Linked DNA regions of Homo sapiens: region 2 is linked to region 1. Evidence: fine-mapped expression QTL. A gene starts in region 1. The other region holds a variant in brackets. All regions are shown on one strand. Distances are from middle to middle. Region 1 holds the start of SORCS3 (sortilin related VPS10 domain containing receptor 3). Region 2 overlaps CFAP58 (cilia and flagella associated protein 58).

Evidence for each region. PIP is the estimated chance that this variant, and not a neighbour inherited with it, causes the effect. A credible set is the group of variants that fine-mapping cannot tell apart.
Region 2: its variant is the best candidate, but not a certain one, in a credible set for the expression of SORCS3 in whole blood (TOPMed, PIP 0.67).

The regions. Positions count from the first base shown.
Region 1 is chr10:104,639,911-104,642,821 of GRCh38, reverse strand. SORCS3 (sortilin related VPS10 domain containing receptor 3) reads right to left here and starts at 1,532. Exons shown (of 27, transcript NM_014978.3): 1 at 868-1,532. The coding sequence starts at 1,494.
Region 2 is chr10:104,386,024-104,388,934 of GRCh38, reverse strand. All of the region lies in intron 9 of CFAP58 (cilia and flagella associated protein 58), which reads right to left. Among named protein-coding and RNA genes, the nearest start is that of CFAP58, 34 kb to the right of the region's middle. The variant T/C (reference allele first, on the strand shown) is at 1,268.

The sequences.
Region 1 (2,911 bases):
AACCCGGTGGCGGGGAAAAGCGGGTGGAGAGGTGTGCAGGAAGCTCAGGCACCCAACTCCGCTCAGGGAGCCGTTTGTGGCGCAGGACGCAATGGTGAAGTCGAGAGTTTTCTGCTGAGCGACTTCCGTGTGCCTGTGCGTGCGTGAGGGCGAGCGGTGTGGCATGAGCGCTGGATGGGTGTGGAATTTCGCTTCACGCTTTAAACTTTTTTTTACGGCCTCTGCTACGGCTTTCCAGGGCCGCTCCCTGGACTTTGAAGGAGGAACCGGGGTTACCTGAAGGCCAAGGCTGGGGGCCGACTTGGCCGAGCCTCCCTCTTGGGCTGGAGGACTGCGCGCCTGGAGCGGATAGCAGCGACCCCGAGGCGAGCAGGAGGCTGGGAGTCCGAATGGCCTTCCGGGTTCCCTTTCGCGTGACGGGAGGGGGGGTGGGGGTGGGGTGGGGGTAGGGGGAGCCCGGCAGCCGCAGGAATCGGTCTGTTCAGCGGCTCCCGCCCCAAGTCAGCCCTTTTTCTCATCCAAGAATTCAAGCACCCCGCAAACAGGAAAACTGACCCTCCAAGCCAAGTATTGGAGAAAGTGAGCACAGATCCCTCCCCCACTCATCTTTAAGAAGCCCCTTCCTCCACTCCCCTCCCGGCGGCCGAAGCCTAGGGTCTCCAGTAAACAAACACACACAGCGTCTAACAACAAACTCCGTTAACCTGTTGGGGGCGTGGGGGGAATCGGACAAACCTGTTATCTCGAAAAGTCGAGGCGTCCCCCGCCTCGACCCCCGAGCAACTATCTGTCCCTCGCTCCCACCCACCCCCCCATTCCCCTTCGGTGTCAGGAAACAGGCGGACCCGCCGCCGGGTGGGTACTCACGCTGCTGTTGTGTCCCGACCAGTGCACCATGGCTTGGTTGTGGGCCGAGTCCCCGGTCAGCGCGAAGGAGGTGCTGGGCAGCCGGAGGTCTTCAGCCGCCGACCCCCCAGCCCGCGGCGCCTTCACCTCCTCCCGGGAACCCTTAGCAAGGGGACGGCTTCCTCTGGAACCATCGGCCGGAGCAGTGGCCCAGGCGTCCCCGCGTTCCTGGGTGATTGGGGGCTGCGCCCGGCGACTCCTCCTCGCGCCGCCAAGCTTGGCAGGAGCTGGGATGCCCCGGCCCCGCCGCTCGCCTGCCGGTGATGTCCCTCCGGCTTCCACCTGCATCTCACCGCCTCTGCCGCCGCCCTGCTGGGGCAGCAGCTCTGGTCCGGCCCGGCGCCCCAGCACGGCGGCTCTCCGCGCCGACGCCAGCTCCTCCGGCCACTGGCTGGCCACTGCCCGCGGCGAGAGTGGAGACAACGCCGGTGGCCGCGAAGCCGGGGCCGCCGGGCGTCCGGGACCGCCTGTCGCGTCCCAAGTGATCTCGGCGCCGGCCAGGACCCACGTCGACAAGAGTAGGAGCCCCGTCCGGACAAGCGGCGCCCCCGGCCTGCCTGCGGGGCGCTCCGTGCGCGCCGCCTCCATCCCGCTGCGGCTACCGCGGCTCGGGCTGCCGAGTGTGTGGCGCCCGCCGAGGTGCGGGTCCGGCGCGGGGGGTGTGCGCGCGCCGGCGAGCGAGCGAGCGTGTGTGTGTAGGGGGAGTGGGGAGGGGGCGGCCGGGAAGGAGGTGGCTCCGGCTGGCGCGCCTCGCCGGTCCTCTCCACTCTTCCCTCCTAGCTCCCGCTCGCCCGTTCTCTTGTCCAGAGGGTGATTCCAAACCCGAGGAAAATTAATAATTGCCCCTTCGGTGCTTTCTTTCTTAAAATCAGATTCCCCCCAATCCTCCCCACTGAGCTCCTCCAGAAATTTGGTAAAAAGGAGTAATCAAAGGTAATAAGAAAATCTTCTTAAAATATGAAAATCAAGCCGGATCCAGGAGGGGCCGGCAATAGACCCCAATCCCGAGTCTCTCCGAAATCCAGCCTCCAACGTGCTCCCGGCGAAGAGTTGGGAGCCGCTTCTGGACGCGTTTGGGGGTTTACTCTTCGGGCCTGTTATGAGGGGCGGGAGATGGCGCGCGGGGAGGGTACAGGGGTCTCGGGGGAGAAGGAGGAGGAGTTGTGTGCTCAACGCCAACTGTTCGCGTTCTAGAGCCGAGAGGGAGCCAGGTGCCTCCGCGCGGGGAGGCTGCGCACGGAAGCCAAGCGCGGGATGCACCCTGGACTCTGCTCGCCGCTCCCTGGCCCGGCCGGCTCCCGGCCAAACCCCGCCACCCAAGGCCTGCGCCCCCGCGCGGGGGCGTGGGGAATGCGTGCGTGCGCGTGCGTGCGCGCAGGCAGGCGGGCGTGAGGCGAGGGGTTCGCAGGGGGCCGGCGGGCAGACCGGGCGCTGCCGCGTGGGGGCACCTGGCTGAGCCGGGCCGGGAGCGCGGCTGGGTGTGAGGGGGCGCGCGGTTCCGTGCGTGCGCGTTTGCACGAGCATGTGTGCACGTTAGTGTGAGCGATGGCAAGTGGGGCGGGGGCGGGAGGTGTGCGCTCGGCTTTTGGTCGCGTGCGGATCACGCACGGGCTGTGTTTGCATTTCCAGGAGCCTGCGAGTGGTCAAAGAGGCAATGCTGAGAACTAGGCAGGCCGCTCTCGGCAGCCCCCTCCTCTTGGCGCCCCGAGCACCCACGGCCCCCACTACAAGCGGTTAGAACCTGATAAAGCCTCCTAGGGGATGAGGGAAAAGAGGCGGAAGGCCCCGGTGGGATCGGGGACTTGCCAGATCTTCTCGGTTGAGGGATTCTCCTTGCCCCGACCTCCCGGCCAGAGGTGGGGCGAGAGAGTAGTCGAGATGTCTGTTCTTCCAGGGAGGATCCAGACCTCATTTTGCTGCCTAGGATTTTGAGGTCGTGCCCTCACTCTCCCCAGTCCGTTTCTGAACGGACTCAATTGTTTCAAAGTGTCGGCCGCCAGTTAAG
Region 2 (2,911 bases), 250 kb after region 1:
GCCAGAGAATTGGTGCTCCTGGCACTCCTAGGCTTCAGGGGAGTCCAGAAAATGCTTACAGTGCACGACAGAAGTACAGCCTCAGTTTATAACCTACTCCTACCTTTTCTGTTGCCGTTAAAACAACCTGCCAATAGAAATAAGAGTGAGATAGAAATCAATAACGCATACAGGAAAACTGCAGCATAGCCAAAACATCACATAGACCAAGGTGGGATTAGAAAGTAGGTCATTGCATTTGGAACCCCTTAATGTACATTTGATGAAATATCAGTACAATAAACTTCTCCAATAAGTTTTTCTGACTTGATGTCAATGGTTTGAATGCTGACAATGCTTTTACCTTCATAATGAAACTGAAAAACTCACTCTGCAATAATAGAAAACAACTATGCGCCCTGGCTTGCGAAATGCTGAGTCTTCCCTATTTTTCTTGCCTTGTTATTTTACCCTCTATCTTGAATTTAGAGAGGCATATCTATGGCTTTGATTCAATTGCATAACATATTATATTATGAATGGGGGATATAATAATATCTATCTCACAGGGCTATTATGAGGATTTAAGTGAGAGAATATATGTCTACGCCAGCATATAAGTACTTAGCATATAGTAATTTAATCATTTAATAAATGCTAACAAATTATTATGATAGTTTACACTACGTCACGTTACATAATACTAGTACTTTAAAAAGTTAATTTGATTTTCCTCCGAATCAAATCCTGTTCTGCAGGAAAAGTAATGATATGAAGCATGCTTCTTTTATTATGATAGAAAAAGCTTATAATTTGTGTTCCCTTGATTCCTCTCTCCAGGATTCTACCCAATTACAGAGGCTCTGTATAAAATTCAAATTAACATCAATGAAACAGGAGCTTTATTTCATTATGAAGATATCTATCTAGTGGACAATATTTCTTTAATCAATTTTTGGTTTCTTTGCTTGCATTAAGTCCTTGAAAGCACATTATTATTCATTTCCTGGAATCTCTGTCCTGAAGAGCTTTGCTTGACAGTGTTATAGGCAAATGAGCAAAGAGCTAGGAAATTTGTTGTTAGGGATTTGTTGCAAAAGAATGTTTTCTGGCATATAAAATGTCTGCGAGGTGACTGCCAGAAGTTTAATATTTGAAATGAAAAAAGAGGGAGATCCTAAAATGAGGCAAGTGCATCATGTGAAAAATGTTCAGCAGATTTAATAATTTACTAGGAGTGGTTTTATCTAGAACATGTAAAAGTTCAGAAAGCAGGAAATATGGTAGA[T/C]CACAACTTACCATGCCATTTCTCATGCCTCTCAATTTATCTGAATAGTGAAATTTAGAGTGCAGCAAAGGAAAATCATGAGGATAAAAACTGCTGTAATCCTGGGGTAGATTATCTTACGGTTTAACAAATGTTCACTCTCTCCCCTTGTCCCACAACCTAAAGAGAGAAGTGCATTTCCCTTGCTGTTGATGTTAGCCTTGGCCATGTGACTCGCTATAGCCAATGGGAGGTCAGAATATCAGACAAGTAGAGAGACATGACATGTGCCTGTATGCGTGGCTTTGTCTCTTGTTCTCCTTCCTTCCCCCATGAGAAGAACATGCACGTGGAGGATAAGAAACATGTGGTCCAGAACTGAGCCCAATCCACATCCCAGAGCCAAGTCCAGGCAAGCCCAGTTTAGGTCAGCTGAACCTCTGTCAACTGCAGGTGTGTGAATAAGAAATAAGTGCTTGTTTTTGTATCCCACGGAGATGTTGTGGCTATTTATCATGCACTATTATTATTGCAAGTGTTGATGGAGACAAACACATAGGAAAAGGTTTGGGATTCTGAGCCATCCAGTTCAGGCACAAAAGGGGATCTTCTTCCTCACTGGCAAATGCCAAGCTAAATGAATACAATATAATGTAGAAGTTTAGCATCTTCAAGTTCACTTTTCTTTCTCTAAGCAAGAAAGAACACGAAGGCAAATGTTGATGCTGTTTTGCAGCTCAGAAGGAAGAAGAGACCAGGTCTGGAAGTCACTCACAGCTAAAAATGCCAATGATAATTCAGATAAAATCATCCATCATGGTAACATGTTTCACATGAATTTAAAGGAAGGGCAGACCCATAGTCACAAGTAAATATATTGTTAGAAAATAACTTGATACAGATACTTAAAAGTGAGCCTCTGACTAGTTAACTCAGATGTCCAATTATGCTTTCCATTCATTCTTAGTTCAAAAAATATTTGAGTATTTACTTAGTAAATAAGCAATATGAAGAACTCAAAATTGAATAAGACTCGCCCCCAAGAAGCCAGTGTGTAGAATGAGGCAGACATACACAAGTAACAGTTACGTGCACACGGGCCTCCTCAACTGCCAGAGGGGAGCCAAGTACAGAGGAATTAGAGATCACTTTTAATAAAGCTTCTTGGGAAAGGTGGAATTTTATTTGGTCCCTGAAAGAAAGGCAAGGTTATTAATAGTGTTTATTTATTTTTTAAATCAGGATACTAAAGTAATACACAACCATTTTACTTTTTCTTATTTTTATTTATTTATTTATTTTTTTTTTTTTGAGATGGTGGTTCACTCTTGTCACCCAGGCTGGAGTGCAATGGCACAATCTCAGCTCACTGCAACCTCACCTCCCAGGTTCAAGCGATTTGCCTGCCTCAGCCTCCCAAGTAGCTGGGATTACAGGTGCCCACCACCACTCCCAGCTAATTTTTGTATTTTTAGTAGAAATGGTGTTTCACCATGTTGGCCAGGCTGGACTTGAACTCCTGACCTCAGGTGATCCACCCACCTTGGCCTCCCAAAGTGCTGGGATTACAGGCATGAGCCACCATGCCCAGCCCATCCATTTTAGAATAGCTAAAAAAAAAAAAAAGCAAAAAAGGAACAAATTTAAACAATTTGTATCCTTATC